7 linked regions of the Homo sapiens genome follow. The protein of the gene in region 1 purifies or fractionates together with the protein of each later gene. This does not show direct contact. Each region holds a gene or a part of one and is shown in the gene's direction. Other genes may lie near its edges.

The links.
Region 2: the proteins of SLC2A12 (region 1) and SERINC1 purify together in Homo sapiens (affinity purification with mass spectrometry; 2 studies listed by BioGRID and IntAct, with this or other methods). This does not show direct contact.
Region 3: the proteins of SLC2A12 (region 1) and ABHD17B purify together in Homo sapiens (affinity purification with mass spectrometry; 2 studies listed by BioGRID and IntAct, with this or other methods). This does not show direct contact.
Region 4: the proteins of SLC2A12 (region 1) and GNL1 purify together in Homo sapiens (affinity purification with mass spectrometry; 2 studies listed by BioGRID and IntAct, with this or other methods). This does not show direct contact.
Region 5: the proteins of SLC2A12 (region 1) and COQ8B purify together in Homo sapiens (affinity purification with mass spectrometry; 2 studies listed by BioGRID and IntAct, with this or other methods). This does not show direct contact.
Region 6: the proteins of SLC2A12 (region 1) and DNM3 purify together in Homo sapiens (affinity purification with mass spectrometry; 2 studies listed by BioGRID and IntAct, with this or other methods). This does not show direct contact.
Region 7: the proteins of SLC2A12 (region 1) and ABCB8 purify together in Homo sapiens (affinity purification with mass spectrometry; 2 studies listed by BioGRID and IntAct, with this or other methods). This does not show direct contact.

What each region holds. Positions count from the first base shown.
Region 1 is NC_000006.12:134,000,625-134,004,124, reverse strand, and holds part of SLC2A12 (solute carrier family 2, facilitated glucose transporter member 12), read left to right. Parts: intron 1-1,995; coding exon 1,996-2,128; intron 2,129-3,500. UniProt on the Homo sapiens protein: Insulin-independent facilitative glucose transporter.
Region 2 is NC_000006.12:122,445,330-122,447,807, reverse strand, and holds part of SERINC1 (serine incorporator 1), read left to right. Parts: intron 1-542; coding exon 543-687; intron 688-803; coding exon 804-1,034; intron 1,035-2,478.
Region 3 is NC_000009.12:71,873,194-71,876,693, reverse strand, and holds part of ABHD17B (alpha/beta hydrolase domain-containing protein 17B), read left to right. Parts: intron 1-1,610; 5' UTR 1,611-1,613; coding exon 1,614-2,080; intron 2,081-3,500. UniProt on the Homo sapiens protein: Hydrolyzes fatty acids from S-acylated cysteine residues in proteins. Has depalmitoylating activity towards DLG4/PSD95. Has depalmitoylating activity towards GAP43. Has depalmitoylating activity towards MAP6. Has depalmitoylating activity towards NRAS.
Region 4 is NC_000006.12:30,549,990-30,553,489, reverse strand, and holds part of GNL1 (guanine nucleotide-binding protein-like 1), read left to right. Parts: coding exon 1-140; intron 141-310; coding exon 311-406; intron 407-828; coding exon 829-1,023; intron 1,024-3,500. UniProt on the Homo sapiens protein: Possible regulatory or functional link with the histocompatibility cluster.
Region 5 is NC_000019.10:40,696,387-40,699,886, reverse strand, and holds part of COQ8B (atypical kinase COQ8B, mitochondrial), read left to right. Parts: intron 1-3,500.
Region 6 is NC_000001.11:172,404,498-172,407,997, forward strand, and holds part of DNM3 (dynamin-3), read left to right. Parts: exon of another isoform or gene 1-3,274; coding exon 3,275-3,344; 3' UTR 3,345-3,500. UniProt on the Homo sapiens protein: Microtubule-associated force-producing protein involved in producing microtubule bundles and able to bind and hydrolyze GTP. Most probably involved in vesicular trafficking processes, in particular endocytosis.
Region 7 is NC_000007.14:151,031,450-151,034,949, forward strand, and holds part of ABCB8 (mitochondrial potassium channel ATP-binding subunit), read left to right. Parts: intron 1-2,155; coding exon 2,156-2,468; intron 2,469-2,823; coding exon 2,824-2,979; intron 2,980-3,055; coding exon 3,056-3,150; intron 3,151-3,274; coding exon 3,275-3,380; intron 3,381-3,500. UniProt on the Homo sapiens protein: ATP-binding subunit of the mitochondrial ATP-gated potassium channel (mitoK(ATP)). Together with pore-forming subunit CCDC51/MITOK of the mitoK(ATP) channel, mediates ATP-dependent potassium currents across the mitochondrial inner membrane.

The sequences.
Region 1 (3,500 bases):
GCTAATACACTGGAGGAGCTAGTGAAGCTTTAGAAGTTCCGTATGGGCTTTTAGAACAAATGTAGGAAAACAGATCCACTTAAAAACAAAAAGCCTAGAATGCTCTAAAACCTTTAGATGACATTTAATTGGAATGCTTGACATTTCCTACTTATTTTCAAAAATAAATTTTCCAAGTGTAGGACACAGGGATCTAAAAGACGTGAGGTTCTACTTGGCAGTAAGCCCTTAAACACCAACATTTTTTATGCAATTTCAGCTGTATCAATAAAAGCAGACTGTTCCAGATAGACAAATGTACTCTGCAGTGATCATGACACAATTGTAGCATTGCATTCAGCTCTGAGTAAAACATCTCGAGAGGGCCATTTAAAAATTGCAGTGTGTTCGCTGAAGGAGGGCAACCTGAATGGCGAGGGCAGTAACCTATGCTGTGGGAAGAATGGTTGAAGAGCTCAGGATGTTTGACTTGGACAAGGGGATTCTCAGAGGAGGGCTGAGGTGCATTCAAATATTTGAATGGCTGTCACGGAGAAGGGGTGGGGAGAGCTGATTCACTGTGTGTCCTTCCACAGGACAAAGCACAGCCTCTGAAAGGCAGATTTAGGATCTAAGCAAGGAATAACTTTTTAGCAGACGCAACTATTTCACAGGGCAGTAAGAGGCTTCGTGAAATGGTGAGCTCCCTGTTACTCAAAGTGCTCAAACAAAACTGGGGACAATTTGATGAGACAGCCTTTAGGGTTTTGACAATTTCTATATTCTGGTTTTAAGCTCCAGAGAAGGAAGGACACCCAATTCTACAAGGACTTTATTAAGCAATCAGTTGGGCCATACCCTGTGCCAGCTAGAAAAGCAGAGAGAGACAGGAGTTTAATTAAAATTGCCAAAAGAACTGCAGTGCGGTTCCTCCTTCCTGCTTCTCCCAACCTCAGCACAACTCACCGACAAGTAGTTACTATGCTTCGATTCTTTCATGCTGCATTTACAAACACTGCCTCAGTACACAAGTGCTCAGTCAGTTTTCCTGCCTGACCAACTGTGGTTTGTGGCTGCAGCTGTTAAAGGCTATTTGTAAAATCTTGTTGTTCGTAGTTGACTACTCCTTGCCACACTAGACATTCTGCTGCTGAGTCAGGGGCCGCCACAATGCAAATGGCAGCCTCAAGTGCACTGTGGGGGCCACTGCTGACCACTGAATGTGCCTTGACTTGGTCCATGACTACAAAGGGACTGTATCTTTGGCTGGAAGCGGTCAGAGGAAAAACTAGGTTTGCAGATGAGAGTCATCAGAATCTTGAGGATCCTGCTTCTTGTGATGCATCTTGGCAAGTTGATGGCTTTTACTGGATCCATGATCACTTTTTTCTCTGAACCCAGGAAGAAACATTACAAATACACTGCAAGCTATTAAAAATGATGAAATATTGCCAGCATGAAATGATTTATTCACATCAGAGCAAAGAAGGGTGAGCTCATTCCAAGAAAAATCCATCTGTACAAATGTCATTAAAAATGTCCACCATTGGGAATGATAGCAAGAGGGGGAAAAAATTGTCCACCGAACAGAAACTAAACTGCTACCATGGCGATTCCCAAGAGGGGAACTGTGGAGAGGGAGAAGAGAGATTTTACCTTCTACATCATATGTTTCCATGTTATTTGAGGTTCCTTTTTTGCATGTGCTTTTTTATATTAATAAAGACACATTGCCATTTTGAAACAGAAAGACATGCCCACCAAGAAGATGACATTGGGTGTAAATTGTGATAGTTACAAGACTGCTATTTTCTTCAACAGAGAAAACTAAGGTAGTCTGTAAAAGTAACACCTTCAGAGCTGGCTACATTTTAAATTTGTGATTTCTATTTTCCTGGATACTGCTGGCATGTTTGAAAATACATATGGTGCTATGTATGCCCTAAGTGGCTGTTCACAAATGGGATCAAAGCTACACAAAACACATTTCTAATCAATTTCTTTTGTCCTTTATAGATCTTATTGGCCTGCCATGGGTGTGCTTTATATATACAATCATGAGTCTAGCATCCCTGCTTTTTGTTGTTATGTTTATACCTGAGACAAAGGGATGCTCTTTGGAACAAATATCAATGGAGCTAGCAAAAGTGTAAGTATTACATGCATTGGTTTCTGAACAATACTCTTTGGTCAAAAGTGCAGCTTTTATATACAGCAAAGGAATAATATCTGAAATTATTAGATATTATTAGATTAGGACATTCCCTTTAGCGTAAGACTATGTCTCAGTGCATAATTCCAATTTCCCTGCTTTGTCTTTAATTTGGGTGATTCAGCTAAGGAAGAATAACCATTTCTTCCCAATGAATGAAGCTTTTTTTTTTTTTTTCAAACTACAAAGTGAATGTATTTGATTGGCAAGTGCAAATTTTCACTTATCAATGAAATATTGTACTGAATTTGAATAAAATCTTTACAATTGGAATGTTTTTTAACGTTAGCCTTTTATAATTATCATCAAACTGTAATGCTATTATTCATTACTATGACCAACCAATATGTACGTACAAGGTTACAAGTTTTTTCCTTTTATACGAAACAAAAACAAAAATACATCATTGTAATTAAAAAGCATTAAACCATATTTTCCTTTTTTGTAATGTAATAATTTTTACTAGAACAAAGTTTAATATTTTCACTGTCTGCATTTCTTTTCGGAAAAAGAAACTGTTACTATTGTTGTTTTACCTGATTTTTTCCTGAAACTAATTTTGTTGTACAGAGGATGTGAATCTTCTGTGCTACTGATTAAAACTATCTCATTTAAAAAACAGTTTATTTCCATAGGTTTTTGGGGAACAGGTGATATTTGGTTACAGAGTAAGTTCTTTAGTGGCGATCGTGAGATTTTGGTGCACCCATCACCGGAGCAGTATACATTGAACTCAATTTGTAGTCTTTTATCCCCCACCACCCCCCAATGCTTCCCCCACCCAGTCCCCAACCAACGGGTGAACATTTTAAAGCTCTACTCAATCACCATCTCAGAACTTCTTCCGCCTCTCTAGCTCCCCCCAACAGGTTTTCTTTGTTTGGGGTTTGGGGTGGGTCCCGGAAGTGTAGATATACCATGTTCACACTGGGCTAGGAACTTGGGTCTCAGCCTTTCCATCTCTATCAGACTTAGAGCTCCTTCTCTGTGCCCTAAACACTTGCTAAGGCTAAGATTAGCAGAAAAACTCTCAGGCTTAACCATCTACCGTTGTTCTAAATATTGCACATTTAAGGTAATTTTAAGAAAGATAAGTTTCTTATATGAATAGGCTTTTAGAAAACTGGTTTAAAAAATTTCACAAGGAGAGATTGTTTAAACAATTTAACTTAGAAGTGAAACATTTAATTTAGAAGTGAGTGGCAGAAAATTCCCTTTCCTTTTTTAGTAGCTCTAATTGCCAAAACCATGTCCTGGGGGAAGAGGTGAGACATAGGGGCTAAGAATGAAGCAGAACTTGTTACTCTTC
Region 2 (2,478 bases), about 12 Mb from region 1:
ACTTGAGTAAGCAGTAGGTCATTATACTTTATTGGGTAATTTCCATGAGGCATTTGCTGGAGTCCTTATAACTGGTTTTTGTGTAAGCTGTCTTGGTTTTTTAACAATGTGCTGTATCAAATTGATAAGCTTCATAAAGTCTGTATCATAATCTCAACATATGATAGAAAAGCCAGTGCATTGTGGTTTATAATCTCTGAATTTTCTTTCTAAATCTACTAGAATTATACTAACCTTAGAAAGTTCATCTATATTTCACCTCTTTCCTGATTGTAGAGGTAATTATCTCTCAGCTATCACATGTTGTTGAAAATTAAATGATTTAACTTTTCCAGGTACTTCTATAAAATCAGAACTATTAACACTTCAAAGGTCTTATTAATAAGTGCAAGTTTTCTTCAATTATTTTTGTTATACTGATGCCTTTTCCAGCAATTGTTTCTCAATTTGCAGGGGTATAGAGAGTTAAAAATAACTTTTGTTTGCTCTGAAAAACATCTTTTTAATATATTCTAACATTTTAATTTGGCTTTATATTACAGAAACAAATTGCAACCCAAGTCTACTAAGCATAATTGGCTACAATACAACAAGCACTGTCCCAAAGGAAGGGCAGTCAGTCCAGTGGTGGCATGCTCAAGGAATTATAGGACTAATTCTCTTTTTGTTGTGTGTATTTTATTCCAGGTAGGAAAAACTATGGAATTTTTTTCTTTAAACAAGAAGTCTAGCTGTTTATTTATGAATCATTTCTTTTAAAAATGTTCTTTTTTTTCTCTCCTCCTAAACTCTCTTTCATACAGCATCCGTACTTCAAACAATAGTCAGGTTAATAAACTGACTCTAACAAGTGATGAATCTACATTAATAGAAGATGGTGGAGCTAGAAGTGATGGATCACTGGAGGATGGGGACGATGTTCACCGAGCTGTAGATAATGAAAGGGATGGTGTCACTTACAGTTATTCCTTCTTTCACTTCATGCTTTTCCTGGCTTCACTTTATATCATGATGACCCTTACCAACTGGTACAGGTATTTATATTTCATGAAAACTCTGGATGTGTGAATTCTGATGGCATTTTATGATTCTCTTGTGAAACCATGATGTGATATGAAGTACTTTTTATCCTCTGATATATTTCAAAATGTACAGCTAAATGAATAGTGAGATCAGCATGAGAAATGCAGTCTTTACTTCCTTGCTTTAACAGTAACACAAACATTGAAATAGTTCCAAATCTTGGAGAGATTAAAATAAAAATTTTCATGAAACTAATACTTTTTACAAAAATCCATGTTGATAGTGGATCTAACATTTTTTTTTTCAATTCTGTAAAGATAGTGAAGTAAAGGATACATCCTTTTTTCTCTTTTGTTTGAACTGTCATTAAAAGCTCTGAAAATTTTTAAATTTAAGTATGAATTCATTAATGTAGATAGATTCTTAGAATTCTTACAAGCCACAATTTTTACAAGCTTAGAATTCTTTCTACAAGCAACAATTTCTACAAATTCTACAAGCTTAGAATTCTTACAAGCTACTTTTTTTTTTAATCACTTCAAACTTAATCCATAAATCTTTTTCTGTTAAAAGGAAGATAGTGATTTATAGTGTTTCATTTTTGAAAGTTCTGGTTTTGTCCAAATGATTACTGAAAGATTTGGTCAAAGATTCAAATTGAACTATGTGGTTTGGGAAGTTCTGTTTTTAATAACTTTTTAATGCATAATATTAATAAACAAATTGTAAGGCGGCTCTCAGTATCAGCAAAAGATGGAGGAAAAAGATTATTCTTTGTTGTATGTCTTTGAGTGCAGCCTTTACTGATTTTTATTATTGAAAAGTATATATATTTTTTAATTCTTACACTGTAGCGTATTAAGCTATAAGAATCCAGCTGGTTCTTTTTTTTTTTTTTTTTGAAATGGAGTCTTGCTCTGTCACCCAGGCTGGAGTGCAGTGGCTTGATCTCAGCTCACTGCAAGCTGTCTCCCAGGTTCACGCCATTCTCCTGCCTCAGCCTCCCGAGTACCAGCTGGTTCTTAACTCAGATCCTTGGCTGTCACATAATAGTAGATATTAAGGCTTTATACCAGAAGGATTTTGGTATATTTCATTAACTCAAAAATCACTTAAACTTGAGATATATTTCCTTCCCAGTCTCTTAATTCTTTCTTTTTTTAAGGAGATATCTCTGAGTCATACCAGTCTCTTAATTCTGAGAAGGGAGGGGCGGGGGAGGGGGTTGGGGGAGTGGAAATCAGGTGAGGAGTTCCATATACATCTTGAACAATCTTATGTAATAGTGACATCTCATTTATCCAGAGGTCACATTCAGTTCCTCTTCTGTCTAATAACATGGCAGACATGCATAAAGTGCTTCAGAGATTATGCAAAATAACTATTTCAGAGGCCTGTATACTTTACTCCATTAAAGGAAATAACAGATTTTTACCTTCACACTAGCAGTGTGGA
Region 3 (3,500 bases), on another chromosome or scaffold:
ACTCTGTTGAGTTGTTTTCTTCCCATTTTTGGTGTAATAGGGTACTTTTTTCCCCCTATTCTTATATTTAGATTTTTTTTTTTTCTTTTTGGAGAAAATTGGATGCCACCAAACCTGTAAGGTGTTGGTTTTAAATGCCTTTTCTCTGGAACTAAGCAATGGCCTAATTTTGCTAAAAAGAGACAGGAATTTGAAAAAGGACAAGATAGAAGGAAATACTGATAGAACTAACAAGTATTACTTTATTTTTGTCCCTAAGTTAAAGTGTGACAATGATATGGCCATCACTCACCGTATGTTGTATGATGGGCCTTCACTACACCAACATTTGATATTCACAACCAGGTCCTTCAGTGTAGGTATTGGCCTTGTTTACTTATGAAGAAAATGAGAGTCAAAGAGATAGTTTGCCCAAGGACATACAGCTGGCAAACGGTAAGTGGTAGAGTTAGGATTTTACCCCAGCTTCCTAACTTTAAACCTTGTACTCTTTCTCTTCCAAACATTTAGAAAAGTTTACCTTTAGTAGATTTTACCTTTTTTCCACAATAAACTTTATATTATAGCCTTTTTAGTTTGGGCAGTAATTACATACATACATACATGCATGCATACATACATACACTTTAATGTTCTATAGGTTATTTGGGCCACTGGCACTGTGACCAAAGTGATAGTCTTCTGAGCGTGTTCTGAATCTGTGAGGCAGTGTAGCCCAGTAACATAGTGTAGTGACAGCCTGGAGTCAAATCCTGGCTCCACCACTGCCTCATCTTGTGCAAGTTTCCTTTCTCACAACAACTTACACAGTTGTTCTGAGAATTAAACCAAGTAACACACATAGAGCACTTGGCACAATGCCTGACAAATAGCTTCATAAATGCTATTAGTATGTATTCACTTTATGCTAAATTCCTAGCTTCTCCATGAGGTTCTAAGAACTTTTGCTGAGTTACATAGAAATTACAGACTACACTAAAGATATTTCATACCTTCAGGTTATTTGTAAAGAAATGGCAAATATTACCTTTATCATTTTTGACATTTATGTTAAATGAGATAATAATCACTGCTATTTGAAACCTGTCATATAGGATTTGAGTCTGTCTGCTGGTCAGGAATATTTGCCTCACCCCAGGATTTAAAGTACTTCTAGAAAGAAGCCAAAGGCCGGGCGTGGTGGCTTACTCCTTGTAATCCCAGCACTTTGGGAGGCCGAGGTGGGTGAATCACCTGAGGTCAGGAGTTCGAGACCAATCTGATCAACATGGAGAAACCCCATCTCTACTAAAAATACAAAATTAACCGGGTGTGGTGGCGCATGCCTGTAATCCCAGCTACTTAGGAGGCTGAGGCAGGAGAACCACTTGAACCCGGGAGGCGTAGGTTATGATGAGCTGAGATTGCGCCATTGCACTCCAGCCTGGGCAACAAGAGTGAAACTCCGTCTCAAAAAAAAAAAAGAAGCCAAAAATCTGTTTGGAATCATACCTAAAATAGTAATAGTCATTAACCACCAATAAAATTTACCCATGTCTGTGTTTTAACTTTTTATTGTATGAGTCTACATTCAGTTATTAAAATATTTGCTATCTCCTTTTCTTTTTCAGAGCATGAATAATCTTTCATTTAGTGAGCTATGTTGCCTCTTCTGCTGTCCACCTTGTCCAGGGAAGATTGCTTCAAAATTAGCGTTTTTGCCACCTGATCCAACTTACACACTGATGTGTGATGAAAGCGGAAGCCGTTGGACTTTACATCTGTCTGAACGAGCAGACTGGCAGTATTCTTCTAGAGAAAAAGATGCTATTGAGTGTTTCATGACTAGAACCAGTAAAGGCAACAGAATTGCTTGTATGTTTGTACGTTGTTCACCCAATGCGAAATACACTTTACTCTTCTCACATGGAAATGCTGTTGATCTTGGTCAAATGAGCAGCTTTTACATAGGACTAGGATCACGGATTAATTGTAATATATTCTCATATGATTATTCTGGATATGGTGCCAGTTCCGGGAAACCCACAGAGAAGAACCTCTATGCAGACATTGAAGCTGCTTGGCTTGCTCTTAGGACAAGGTAAATTGTGGTTGGAATTTATTTTTCATACTCGTGGTGGTTAGCTAAAAATATCTTGTGTAAGAATAGAATAAAAGCTGTTTTTATTATACATAACTGCTATATAGAGGTTATATTTACTATTATATACCTGTGAATAAATATTTTAGACAGCAATTTTAAATTTCACATAATAGCAAAACAAAGTTTTTAAAGACAGTTTCAGGTTTGTTTGTCTACATTAATACACGTATATATGTATGTTTTTTTTAACTTAAATTCTTAGCTGGAAGTCCATGGTGCATGCCTATAGTCCTAGTTACTTAGGAGACAAAGTCAGGGGAATCACTTGAGGCCAGGAGTTTGAGGCTGCAGTGAGCTATGATCGTGCCACTGCACTCCAGCCTGAGTGACAGCGTCAGACCTCATCTCTTAAAAAGTTAAAAAAAAAAAAAAATTAAATCCAGTGACAAATGTTTGGTTTTTGTAAGCTTTCTTATTGGAGTGTGATATAAAAAATGTTTATTCAAAGCTGCAACCTTTCAAGGAAATGAGAGAAAATACTGACATAGCTAATTATTCACTTGATCTGTCATTAACAGTATGAGGCTGGATTGCTTTCTATTAAAATCTTAAGCCAAGATTTGCATTATTTTATGTGATTACTTCTTGGGAAGTACAACTTAAAGATACCTTATTGGAATTATTTTTCAAGTATTCATTCTGTAAAACTGAGATTTTACTTTATATTCTGTGTTCCTAAAATTGGGAGAGATTATATCAAGTTTAAAAAAATTTTTTAGGCTGGGTGCGGTGGCTCACGCCTGTAGTCCTAGCACTTTGGGAGGCTGAGGCAGGCGAATCACAAGGTCAGGAGTTCGAGACCAGTCTGGCCAACATGGTGAAACCCCATCTCTACTAAAAATACAAAAAAAAAATGTCTGGGCGCAGTGGCTCATGCCTGTAATCACAGCACTTTGGGAGGCTAAGGCAGGTAGATCACGAGGTCAGGTATTCGAGACCAGCCTGGCCAAGATGGTGAAACCCCGTCTCTACTAAAAATACGAAAATTAGCCGGGCACAGTGGCGGGTGCCTGTAATCCCAGGTATTCGGGAAGCTGAGGCAGGAGAATCACTTGAACCTGGGAGGCGGAGGTTGCAGTGAGCTGAGATCACACCACTGCACTCAAGCCCAAGTGACAGAGTAAGACTCTGTTTAAAAAAAAAGAAGTTTTAATGTTATGATAAATTGTTTAATAAAATTTTCTTACTATGTCAGTTATTCTTTGATTATAGCAGCATACATTTTGGGGAACTAGAAATTGCATTAATCTTTTCTAGTCACCAAGATACCTAAACATTTTTCTTGAAAAAAAAATCACAATTTGGTAGACTTCAGTGTATTATTAGTCAGGTTAGTGTACAATAAACAGATACCTTA
Region 4 (3,500 bases), about 100 Mb from region 1:
TTTGAACAAGGTGGATCTGGCCCCGCCAGCTCTTGTGGTTGCCTGGAAGCATTATTTCCATCAACACTATCCCCAGCTCCACGTCGTCCTTTTCACCTCTTTTCCTCGGGACCCCCGCACCCCACAGGACCCTAGTAGTGGTGAGTGGGCAATGAGAGAGGGCAACTTGGGAGAGGTGAGTTGGCAGGGGACAAAGGGGAGAACAGAGAGGCTTATTGACAAGGGGGCACCTGGTCTTGGGCCTAAGGGTGGTGGGAGAGATGAGAGGCCTAAGCCCGTGTGCCCATCCTTTTGTGCCCTCTGATCTCAGTCTTGAAGAAGAGTCGGAGGCGGGGGAGAGGATGGACTCGGGCCCTGGGGCCAGAGCAGTTGCTGAGAGCCTGTGAAGCCATCACTGTGGGGAAAGGTATGTGGCCCTTAGAGGAGGGCTGTAGGAGGACATGGGGGAGACCAAAGATGCAGAATCATTTTGCTCACCTTTCCTGAAGCCAACCCCTCTATGGTGGATATGTGCAAGAGGCCAGGGGAAGGGACAGAATAAGGAGCAGACTGACTTGGTGGGACGAGAGGCAGCAGGTAGTCAGGAGCCTCAGTGGCTTGCTGCCTTTAGCCTTCCCAGTACTTTTCAGAAGCTCAGAGAAACGTGCGTGATTCCAGGGAGGGTAGGGTCAAATGACTTTTGGGAGATTCTCTGACCTGCTCTTATTTAGGTTGGCACTGTACAACTCCAGAGGGTGCCAGTTACATAATCTGTGCAGGGCACAGTATGTGCCATCATGCACAGCAGCCCTGGGGAGAACCTCTTTAATCTTCTCCTTCTTTGAGCAGTGGACTTGAGCAGCTGGCGGGAGAAGATTGCTCGGGATGTGGCTGGGGCCACCTGGGGTAATGGCTCTGGGGAGGAGGAGGAAGAGGAGGATGGCCCAGCAGTCCTGGTGGAGCAGCAGACTGATTCAGCAATGGAGCCAACTGGCCCAACCCAAGAGCGCTACAAGGATGGGGTGGTGACCATCGGCTGTGTGGGTAAGGAAGTGGCAGCTTGTGCGTGGTGGCCTCCAAGGAGGTACAGAGTTTTCATATTCGGAGAAGAGAGAGGGCGATCAGGTCTCATTAGGCCCCAGGGTGTCTGAGGGGTGATCTCTGCCAGTGGCGGTGGGCAAGGCAGAAGAGGCGTCTGCTGCAGTGGAAGGATCATGACAGCCTGAGTTAAATTCCACCTCTTCTCAGCTGTGAGGTCTTGAGTAAGTGATTTTGCTACTCTGAGTCTTAGTTACTTTGATTTTAAAAATAAGGACATTGATACCTGAGTAAAAGAATGGATGACGGCCATGTGTGAGGGCTCATGCCTATATAGTCCCAGCGCTTTGGGAGGCTGAGGTGGGAGGATTGCTTGAGACCAGGAGCTCAAGACTAGTCTGGGCAACATAGTGAAACCCCATCTTTACAAAAGATAAAGAAAACTAGCCAAGTGTGGTGGTATGTGCCTGTAGTCTCTGCTACTTCAGAGGCTGAGGCAGGAGGATCACTTGAGCCCAAGAGTTCAAGGCTGCAGTGAGCTATGATTGTGCCACTGCACTCCAGCCTGGCTGATAGAGACCCTGTCTTTAAAAAAAAAGAATGGATGTGAGGAATGATGGGAATAGTGTTAAGAGAGTGTAAGAATGCCTGACAAATAGTGATAACAATAATAACAATTATTATTGTTAAAACTCAGTATTTATATGGTGCTTACTATGTAACAGGCACTGTTTTAAGTGGTTTATATAAACCATTTGAATTGTAGTAATTAGTCTGTAGTACAGTGATTATCAAATCATAGTAGGAGCTCAGCAAGAATTAGTATTCTTCTAGGTTTTAACCCTTTAAGTTTGTTGCCAAGGAGAATCTCCTCTTAAGGGCTTTGTCTCAGCTCACAGTGGAGGAAAAAGGAATGTATGATTAGGACCCAGGGCCCGTCTTCATTTAGGGTGGGAGAGGTAAGAAGAGACCTTGGACAAGTTATGGTATCTGAGGTGATATTGGAACCAAAAAGGGCCCAACCCAGAATAAATTTGGGAGTGTGGAGTAGGTAGTTGGGTTCCTTGGAAGTGCCCTGACTTATCTCTGTGTCCTTTTTGTCTTTGGAAGAACCTGCCTTACTGCTGAGTGATTGCTCCTCTTTCCAGTCATTTCACCCGGCTGTCCCTTCCCTGACTTCTGATCCTAGTCTCCCTGTCACAAGGAGCCTCTGTTCCCTCTCTTAGCAGCCTCTGCTCTAGCTGATCTCTATTCCAGGTGGTGTGAGAGGGAGAGTGTTTGCTGTGGCACAGGCACCCCTGAGTTTGGATTTCCCTCCAGCTCTCATTCATTTACCCATTCAACAAATATGTACTGAACACTTAACCAGGTGCCAGATATTCTAGGGATGGGACATACTGCTGTGGAAATGGCAAAAAGGTCTGTAGATTCATGGAGCTTATTTTCTTGTGAGTAAATAGATTTTGTGATCCGAAATCATGTAGGGGCAGTGAAGGCAATAAAGCAATGAAAGGGGATAGAGAGTGACTGAGAGGAGAGGTGCTCAGGGAAAACCTCCCTGAGGAGAGAACTGGATGATGAGATGAAGTGAGCCATTCAGAACTGTGGGGAAAGGGTCTTGAGGAGGGAACGGGCTTGGAGATTCTAGGACCAGCAAGAGTGCCCAGGGGATTGGAGTATGGGAGCCAGGATAAAGTACTGGGGATGAGGTCAGCAAGATCACCAGGGCCCACATCATGTAGAGCCCTGAGGCTGTGACAGCCATTTTGGATTTTATTCCAAGTCTCATGAGAAGCCAAGGGTAGGTTTTGAACAGGGGAATGATAGGATCTGATTTTGTTTCTTATAAGTTTACCTCCTGAGTAGAGAATAAATGATGGGGGGTGGGCAAGAAAGGGAGCAGAGAGAGCAGTTGAGGCTATTTCAGTAATCTAGGAGAGAAATAAGAGTTGCTTAGAGTAGGATGCTGGAGCTGGAGGTGGTGAGACAGGGCCGGAAGCATGATATATTTTGAAGGTAGAGAAAATGAGATCGCTGATGGCTTGCAGTTGGCACGTGAAGGAAAGTGAGGATAAAGAAGGACTTCCAGGTTTTTGTCTTGAGCAACTGGAAATACTGAGATGGGAAGACTGGGGGAGAAGCAGATTTGAAGGCTTTGGGGAGGAGAGGGGAATCAGAAATGAAATTTCAGATTCTTTTTAAATATCCCTAGTGGAGATGTTGAATAGGCAGTGGGTAAGTAGTCAGCAGCTTAGGGGAGAGAAGAGGACGGAAATTTGAATTTGGGAAAGATTTAAATTTGGGGAACCATTGATGGATATAAGTGGTATTTAAAGCCACAGGATTAGGCTGGGCACAGTGGCTCATGCCTATAATCCCAGCCCTTTGGGAGGCTGAGGCAGGTGGATCACTTGAGGCCAGGAGTTTGAGACCAGCCTGGCCAACATGGTGAAACCCTGTCTCTACCAAAAAATACAGAAAAT
Region 5 (3,500 bases), on another chromosome or scaffold:
TTGCAACGCTCTGCTTCCCAAGGAAAGGGTAAGAGAGGTTGAGGGTAGCCCCCTGCCTAACTGCTTTGGCCAGAAGTGGAAAAAGTAATGCCCAGGCTAAATACACTAAGCTCATCCTGGGGCAATGGACATAGCACTTCCGTTGCCATTCCATCAGTGAGAGCTAGTGACATAGCCTGCCTAGGTGCAAGGCATGCTGGAAAATGGAGTCCCTGGCTAGGCAGTGGTTCCTGGTGGCAATGTGACAGCACAGAGGGGAAGTACAGCTTTTGGAAGGCAGTTAGCCATCACTACCACACTCGTCATCCATACAGAACACACCATCACCTGCCCTTGCCTCTTGACAGCAATAAAAAGACATCCCTGACCCTTGCCTTCTCAGAGTGCCCAGTCCAGTGGGGGGACCTGGCACCACACAGCGATGACCTAGAGTGGTTCGTACCAACCACAATGAGGAGCACAGGCCAGATGGGTCAGGACCGGGATGGGGGAGGCACAGGCAGAGGGGTGGGGGCTGGAGTTGGGGGAGGCACAGGAAGTTATGGGATCCCAGGGAAAGTGCCTGACTCACTGTGGGGTGAGCAGGGATTAAGGGAGGCTTCTTAAAGCAAGTGCCATTAAAGCTGAGGCCACTGAGAGGCTGAGGTGGGAGGATGGCTTGAGCCCAGGAGGTCGAGGCTGCAGCGAACCAAGATCATGCCACTGCACTCCAACCTGGGTGACAGGGCGAGACTCTGTCTCACCAAAGAAAAAAAAAAAAAGCTGAGACCAGAGGCTGAGCATGGTGGCTCATGCCTGTAATTCCAGCACTTTGGGATGCTGAGGCAGGAGGATCCCTTGAGGCCAGGAATTTAAAACCAGCCTGGGCTCTATTTAAAAAAAAAAAAAAGGCTGAGATGGGACAGGGGAAAAGGAGACAACCATCCAGAGAGCAGAGTGTTCCCAGCAGAGGGCAGGGGGTGTACAAAGACCTGTAGTGAAGGTTTGGACCTGCAGACTTGAGTGTTGGTGGATACATCATTACCTTTATCAGGGGTTGCCAACTGTTTTCCAAAGTGGTCTATCCCCATTTTGTCCCCAGAGGGGTCTTTCTAAAGCACAAATCTGGTCAAGATATCCCTCCTACAGCTTCACAGCCCCCTCAGAATCAAGTCTGAACCCTTTGCTGAGCATCCTGTGGCCCCACGGAGTCTCCAGCCCTAGTCCCTTGCCTCTTCTTTCTCCACAATGTGCATACACCCTGTGTCCCCTCCTAGGTTCATACCCCAGGGATATGTTTACCCAACTCCAAGTGATAGGAGTCCTGACATCAATTTATTGGTTTCCAACAGGACTTTTTTTTTTTTTTGAGACAGAGTTTTGCTCTTGTTGCCCAGGCTGGAGTGCAATGGCACGATCTCAGCTCACTGAAGCCTCTGCCTCTGGGGTTCGAGAAATTCTCCCACCTCAGCCTCCCAAGTAGCTGGGATTACAGGTGCCCGCCACCACACCTGGCTAATTTTTTGTATCTTTAGTAGAGATGAGGTTTCACCATTTTGGCCAGGCTAGTCTTGAACTCCTGACCTCATGATCCACCAGCACTTTTTTTTTTTTTATGGAATAGATGATGTCAGTATGTCACAGATGGGAGGGATCCATATTATTTTGGGACACTTTTCTTTTTTTTCCCCGAGATGAAGTCTCGCTCTTGTCACCCAGGCTGGAGTGCAATGGTGTGATCTCGGCTCACTGCACCCTCCGCCTCCCAGGTTCAAGCAATTCTCCTGCCTCAGCCTCCCAAGTAGCTGGGATTACAGGTGCCTGCCACCACGCCCAGCTAATTTTTGTATTTTTAGTAGAGATGGGGTTTCACCATGTTGGCCAGGCTGGTCTCGAACTCCTGACCTCAGGTGATCCGCCTGCCTTGGCCTCCCGAAGTGCTGGGATTACAGCCATGAGCCATTGCGCCTGGCCTTGGGACACTTTTGTTTGACGTTTTTGTGTGCATTTGCATGAACGCCCAGTAGAAACTCTCTCTCTCTCTCTCTCTCTCTCTATATATATATATATATATATATATATATAATTTTATTTATTTGTTTGTTTAGAGATAGAGTTTTGCTCTTGTTGAGAATGGAGGCTGGAGTGCAGTGGCACAATCTCGACTCACTGCAACCTCCACCTCCTGGGTTCAAGTGATTCTCCTGCCTCAGCCTCCCAACTAGCTGGGACTACAGGCGTGCGCCACCACACCCAGCTAATTTTGTATTTTTAGTATAGGTGGGGTTTCACCATGTTGGCCAGTCTGATCTTGAACTCCTGACCTCAGGTGATCCGCCCCCCTCAGCCTCCCAAAATGCTGGGATTACAGGTGTGAGCCATCACGCCCAGCCACCAGTAGAAACAATTTCTTACTGTGGGTTGTGGTCAGTTCAAACTCTACTGCCCTAGAAACATTCTTACAGGTGTTCATTGAGCACAAAAATTAGAAACAGGCCAGGTGAGATGACTCACTAATGTAATCTCTGCACTTTGGGAGGCTGAGGTGGGAGGATCACTGGAGCCCAGTAGTTCGAGACCAGTCTGGGCAACGTAGTGAAACCCTATCTCTACAAAAAATGTTTCAAACTTAGCCAGGTGTGGTGGGGTGCACCTGTGGTCCCAGCTACCCAGGAGGCTGAGGCGGGAGGATCACTTGAGCGTGGGAGTTTGAGGCTGTAGTAAGCCATGGTCGTGCCACTGCACTCCAGCCTGGGCAACAGATCAAGACCCTGTCTCAAAAAAAAAAAAAAATGTCAGAACAGAGTTTATAACTAATAAACATATTTAAAAAGAAGGAAAAAAAATCAGAAACAACCACAGTATTCCTCAGCCAGATAAATGCACTGTGATAGATTCACGCAACGAAGTCCTTACACAGCAGTGTGAAATGAGTGACTGAGCTGGAGCGACACATGGCAACAGGGATAAATCGCAAAACCATGCTGGGCAAAAAGCACAAGTTGCAGGAGAACGACAGTAAATACCACTTCTGTGAAGTTTGAAAATATGCACACCATTACTCTAGATTGTTTACAGCTGTACACATACATAGAAAATATAGAAATGCATAAATGAGAATTTCAGGAAATAATTTAATAATGATTGTAGGAAAGAGGTGACCCTGGGGACCTGGGGGAGGTGTGATCAGGGCGGGATACACAGGAGGCTCCACGTGGATGGGGAGTATTTTTTTTTTTTTTTGAGACGGAGTCTCACTCTGTTGCCCAGGCTGGAGTACAATAGCACAATCTCGGCTCACTGCAACCTCCACCTCCCAGGTTCAAGCCATTCTCCTGCCTCAGCCTCCCAAGTAGCTGGGATTACAGGCACGCACCACCGCACCTGGCTAATTTTTGTATTTTTAGTAGAGACGGGATTTCACCATGATGGCCAGGCTGGTCTCAAACTCCTGACCTCATGATCCACCCACCTTGGCCTCCCAAAGTGCTAGGGTTAGAGGTGTGAGCCACCACGTGTGG
Region 6 (3,500 bases), on another chromosome or scaffold:
TTGTGCTCTTGTCCCAGCCACATGGTCCAAGGATTAAAGCAGATATTAATGAGAATTTACTGTGCCATAAGAGTACTTAAGTCTTTCTATTCTCTATCCACACCATTGAATTTTTCCCTTCAATCGCCATCATTTAAGTTCCAATTTCACTCATTATAGACCTACATTCCTACTTCCAAGTTTTATATGCAGCAGTTACAATCATGTTTGCCATCACTTTGACCACATTATTGTATTTTCAGACTTCCCAGAGTGTATTCTCAGACTCCGAATTACAAAATTTTGCCCCACTTTTCCACTTAAAATGAAGTACTATAATAAAGCTACTTTCATATTTGTTTTATTCCACTCATCTTCCATTCTGAATAGATGCTGAGCTCTTTAAAGTCATGTAGCATGAAGCAGTCCACATATTAGATGCTCAATAAATAATCTATGCAATATATAACTGGAAGTCTTGACATAGATCATCTAGTCTGATTGTACAATTTGGCAACTGGAGCTAGAATCCACATTTTCTAACTTCTGATCCAGGACTCTTTCTATGTAAACATAGTATCTCAAATATAAGCTTCTGATAAATGCCTTAAAAGTGTAGCATCCTTGGCCTCGCTAGACCTACTCACCTTGATCTAGCCTAAACTCTAGCCTGGCTAAATATCTTGTTTAGGCACTTTTCAGTCATTTCTTCATTTGTCCATTATTCAACAAATACTTAACCACTGCTTTCTAATCACATTGTACCAAATGCTGAATACACATAATAAATGCAAAATATGTGGTTTCTTTTCTCAAGGAATTTTGAATCTATTTGGGGGACACTGGTAATAATCTAGTAAATAAATACATAATCACAAGTAGGGTTACGTGCTACGAGAGACACAAACATGAAGTCATAGGGGAAGGCAGAGGAAGTCAGGAAAACTATGGGATGGTCCAGAAGGACTGAGGAATAACAGTTAAGCCAAGAACAAAAGGATCAAGAGAAGTCAGTTTCATTCCTTTCTCTCTTGGCTACAAGCCTTGATCCAAGCTATCACATATTCATGAAACGATTTCCAATCCATCATGCCATGCTGTATCCTACTTCTCACTGAATTTGTAGTCTAAAATCAACTTTTTATTTAATGAAATCACCTAATTAATTCCATTATCAAAACTTCTGGTAGAATTTCCCTCCTTAAAGCTCAAATTCTGGCCAGTTCTCTCCTCCCACCAGCCAACTGGTTAATTGCTAAGAATACATTTCCATAGGTTACATGATTATTTGACAAACTCCCTGAGGGCAGGGGGCTTATTATTTGGTATTTATTCCAAATATCTACTAAAGAACTGAGCAGTTAGATACTTTAGAGTCACCAAGGATCTCAATCCTACATGTCACTTTAGCTACTTTTTTTTTTTTGCCATGGCCATGATTTACTCACAAATATCCTTGTATTTATAAGACCAATGAATATCACAAGCATTCATTAGTTATTTCTTGATTCTAGGAGGAACTTTCATTCATTCAGTTATCAAACATTCAGTGACTGAATGACAAGCAGTGAGCTAGATACCACAGTTACATGAAGATGATTAAGAGACAGCTCATTTCTCATCAGTGAAGATAACATATAAGCCTAATTAGAGTTCAGTGTGATGACTAATAATAGAGATTTGTTGAGATGCTATACAAACAACTGTATCAGGAGAGGGGAAGGCAGGTCAGGGAAGGCTTCACTGAAGTAAGTCTTAAATGATTAGTTAGTAGTCTCAGAAGATGACCAAAATGACATTGAGAATGTAATTGCATGTAACACCATGCTAAACACTGTATGAAACAAGTTAAGTGGGTGTGACCTGCGCCCTTCAGAAACTTCCTATCAAAGAAGAAAATTATGCAGATTCAAGATTCAGGACATAAGTTAAACATATATGGCCATTTTAAATGAAAATAAGGCTGGGTACCATGGCTCACACCTGTAATTCCAGTGCTTTGTACCTCCCCAAAGAAAGATTTCCTTTGAAGCCTCTTACACATTTTTCAAGTGCATGAGGTAAAAGGAATTCTACTAATATCTATGAGTTTGTGCCTAAATAGTTAATATTTTCACCATTAATCAACAATATCTCTCCTGCTTTGATTTTTCCTTGATCGTGTAATTTAATTTTATAGTTCCATGATTTTTCAACAACTATTTTTTTCAAAACTATTTTTCAAAACTATTTTTCATAATAGTTTTCTTAAATTTTTCTAACTTCACTTCTTCATACCTGAGAAAGGACATTCAATTTGATCAATATAGAGTTTCTAATACAGAAGAAAAATTTATGACTATAATTCCAGAAGGAGTCTTTCTGAAAAAATCAGTTGCAGAGTTTTATCAAAAAGAAACATTTCAATTTGTAGACTTTGTCAAATTTGGGGGGGTAAAAAAATGACTACCCAAGATACCATATATGAAGTCAAGTACACAAATACACTAAAAAAACTTATTAATATATTTAGGAAATAAATGTAGAAGCTTGAGGAATAAATAAGTAATAAATAATATTACTTGGTAATGTTGAGACTCTCAAATACAGTAATATTTCATTATCTAAAGTACGTTTGCTTAGTAAACTCAGCTACCAGAAACATCATTACCAACTAGAAAGTGAGTAATACTACTAATACCAATACTAAAGTCTTTAAGACCCAAAATAGGAACTAGAGCTCCTGCAATTTAAACAGGCACTCAACACTGAGCCTATTTACACTTGCTACAGAGAACTCTAAAGACTTGCTTTTCTGATTTTTAGTGCTCTGTAAATTACAAGCATAATATAGAACAAATTGGAGAAAGTCAAAAAGGCAATGAGAAGTGATAATAATATCCTGAAAGAAAAAGGAAAATTATATGTGAGAAATAAAAATTCAAAAGCCATCATTGTCTGAAACAGTATACCTTATTAGTTCCTGAGTTCATTCTATGTAATTATTATATTCTATTGGCTAAGATATGTGCAGTACGTTTCAGATGGCTTTCAAATAGTTTCATATTTCTTATTAGTATTGGAAGGAATGACTTCAGTTTTGAGAAAGATTTGCATATGAAAAAAGACGTAATTTTCATTAAAACTACTAGATAAATGAAAGGTGACAATGTTAAAATCATTACAGATCATAACCACTTCTGCTGGCCTGTATGTGCATGAGCATGTGTGTAATGGCTCTTTCTCAGTGTCCTTGGAACAATGTTCTGCTAGATATTCTACTTGTTTCTTTACCTTTCTCTTTTTCTCTTTCTAGCCGGAGACCACCCCCATCACCAACTCGTCCCACTATAATCCGCCCACTAGAATCCTCCCTGTTAGACTAAACGAAGTGTCTGGCATGGCAATTAATCACTAATGAATTATGCGAAAGCAACATATTTGATAACCGTTGCAGTAAATCATGAGTAGTCGCATGTGTGGACATCAGTAGGCAAGTAACCAGTTTTACTAATGCATTCATCGCTCATCTTCATTGCTCA
Region 7 (3,500 bases), on another chromosome or scaffold:
GGGTCTAGGGATGTGAAAGGCCATGATGGTAAAGAGAAAAGCTCACACTACTCTTTTTTTAAACCTTTCCCCATCAGTAAGCTTATCTAGATCTTCTAGATCTCACCATCCTCTCCTGGCTGGATAACTTCTGCTCCCTACAACCAGTCCTGTCTGCCTCCAGCCCATGCCCCTCTGCTATGATCTTTTTTTTTTTTTTCAAGACAGAGTCTTGCTCTGTTGTCCAGGCTGGAGTACGGTAGCACGATCTTGGCTCGCTGTGACCTCCTCCTCCCAGGTTCAAGTGATTCTCTGCCTCAGCCTCCCAAGTAGCTGGGACCACAGGCACACACCACCACATCCAGCTAATTTTTAGTAGAGACAAGGTTTCAACATGTTGATCTAGAACTCCTGGCCTCAAATGATCCACCCGCCTCAGCCTCCCAAAGTGTTGGGATTACAGGCGTGAGCCACTGCGCCCGGCCATGCTACGATCTTTAAAATGAAAACCTAATCTTGGCACATCTCGGCCTAAAAATCACCATGACCCTTATTGCCCCCCAAGTCCAGGAGCTTTATAAGAACTAGAAAACTGCCCCTCCCGCAAGTCTCATGTCTCTTTTCCCTTCTTGTAGGTCAGGCTTCAGCCATACAATTCCTGAAATTTCTCTCCCATCCTTTCTTACTGGAGATACCTGCACTTGCTTTTCCTCTGCCTAGAGCTCTCCCCTTTACACTCCACCCCCACCTGTGCCTGGCCTGTTCCCCCTCACAGGTTCCCCCTTACCTAGAAGGCCTTTCCTGACTCCCTCTGAGGAGAAGGAGGAGCAGGGCTTCAAGCTGTTTTGTGCCTCTGATTTCCAGTTAACTGTGAGTCTCCCGCACTCAAGCATGACTGCTGTGAGGGGAGTTACTTCAGCTGTCATGTAACTCCATAACTCCGAGCAGAGCACCTGCACACAGTAGGTTCAAAATGTGTAGAATAGGCCAGGCACGGTGGCTCATACCTGGAATCCCAGCACTTTGGGAGGCTGAGGCAGGTGGATCATGAGGTCAGGAGTTCAAGACCAGCCTGGCCAATAAAGCGAAACCCCATCTCTACTAAAAATACAAAAATTAGCTGGGCGTGGTGGCTCGTGCCTGTAGTCCCAGCTGCTCAGGAGGCTGAGGCAGGAGAATCTCTTGAACCCGGGAGGCAGAGGTTGCAGTGAGCCGAGATTGTGCCGCTTCACTCCAGCCGGGGTGACGGAGCGAGACTCTGTCTCAAAAAAAAAAAAAACACAATGTCTAGAATAGTGGAATCGATGTTAGCATTTTATAGATGTGGCAGCTGAAGGAAAGAGAAGGTAATTGTCCTATTCAAGATGACAAGATAAGTTATTAGAATTCTTATTTTTCTCTGTTTCCTCCTTCAGCTGTGGAGAGGGAGTGTGTGTCATGGCGCCCCAGGCCAGGGAGGGGAGGTAGGGTAATGGGCCTGGGACATCAGAAGACATGGCACACTGGCAGAGTAGAGCCAGCCTGGGTGCTGGAGTCAGACTGCAGACTTGGTTCCCTGCTCGTCCCAGTTCTGCTGCCTGCGGACAAGTTATTTCAGCTCTCTTAGCTCCACATGATTTTTTTCATCTGTCAGGTGAGAATAATGGCACCTCCCTCCCAGGGAGGTGAGGATCAAGGGAAGTAGCCCATTAGCTCCAGGAGGTGGGGCTGTGTCTGCCCTGGTGGCTGCTGTGAGCAAGTCCAGTGCCGGGCACAGGAGCAGCTCTCTTTCCTCACCTCTCTGCACCGTGGTCCCTTAAACCCCCGGCCCCTTCCTGTCCAGGCAGTGTGTGGCCATCTAACGTGCCATCCAGTTCTTCAGGCTGTCATTCTGTCAGAGCCTGGAGTCGAGGCTGCGAGGGCCCTGGCTGGCTGGGTGTTGCCTGAGAGTTGCCCAGGGGAATAAGACTTTTAAGACTAGATTTTGTGCTCAGTGCCTCATTCCTCTGCGACTTTGCCCATGGACATGTCTTAGAAACTGAAGTTGCTTCAGAACAGCCCTGAGAAGGGCAGGGGCAAGGGCCTGACAGAAGAGGAAGTGCTCCTTCCAGAGGGCTCAGCCAGAGCCCCATGGGTGTGCTGGTCAGCAGGAGGGCAGTCGGAGCCTCAAGCCATCCATGCCTCTCTCTCCTTACAGGTACTCTGATGGCTACCGCAGCTCCTCCCTCCTCCGGGCCGTGGCCCACCTGCGGTCCCAGCTCTGGGCCCACCTCCCTCGAGCCCCCCTAGCTCCCAGATGGAGCCCCTCTGCCTGGTGCTGGGTTGGGGGAGCCCTGCTAGGCCCCATGGTACTGAGTAAGCATCCCCACCTCTGCCTTGTGGCCCTGTGTGAGGCAGAAGAGGCCCCTCCTGCCAGCTCCACACCCCATGTCGTGGGGTCTCGCTTTAACTGGAAGCTCTTCTGGCAGTTTCTGCACCCCCACCTGCTGGTCCTGGGGGTAGCCGTCGTGGTGAGGCTTTCCCCACTTCTCCATCCTGGGGACAGGGCAGGACCCAGAGCTGCAAAGGGATGGCATTCCTGCCTCGCTGCCTCTCAGGGGAGAGCTCAGGGGAGCAGCAAGGGCTAGCCAGGGGTCCAGGGGTGCCAGGAGCATCAACACTGGGTGGCTGGGTGGGCAGGGTTCCGTGGGGACTGGAAGCCAGGGTTTGAACCTCTGAGAGGCACTGATGTGTCCACATGACCAGCCACAACCTGGACAAGCGCAGTGCTCAGTAGTGGGAGAGGAAGGGCCAAGATCTGGCTGGGGATGGGGAGGAGTGGCTCCCCCACTTAAAACATTTGTGCCCTCTGTCTCCCCATTCCAGCTGGCCTTGGGTGCGGCACTCGTGAATGTACAGATCCCCCTGCTCCTGGGCCAGCTGGTAGAGGTCGTGGCCAAGTACACAAGGGACCACGTAGGGAGTTTCATGACTGAGTCCCAGAATCTCAGCACCCACCTGCTTATCCTCTATGGTGTCCAGGTACAGCCGGGAGTGGGGCTGGGGACCGCCGAGGAGCCACCCGAGGCATCCCTGAGTGCACTGGGCTCTTTCGCAGGGACTGCTGACCTTCGGGTACCTGGTGCTGCTGTCCCACGTTGGCGAGCGCATGGCTGTGGACATGCGGAGGGCCCTCTTCAGCTCCCTGCTCCGGTACTGCCAGCCGCAGGGTGCAGAGTTGGGGTGACTGATGGCCTGAGGGGTCTGGGGGTAGGACCTTATCCTGAAGTAATGTCTCCCTCTTCTGCCCTCCTTATTGGTTCTTGTCCCATGCCAGACAAGACATCACCTTCTTTGACGCCAATAAGACAGGGCAGCTGGTGAGCCGCTTGACAACTGACGTGCAGGAGTTTAAGTCATCCTTCAAGCTTGTCATCTCCCAGGTCAGTGGCCCAGTGGCCCCCACCACGTCCACACACACACTTTCCCATGTGGATTCACCAGGCCAGCCCTGCCCGCCCCAGCCCTGATGTTGGGCTGACAGGCGCATGCTGACTCGAGAA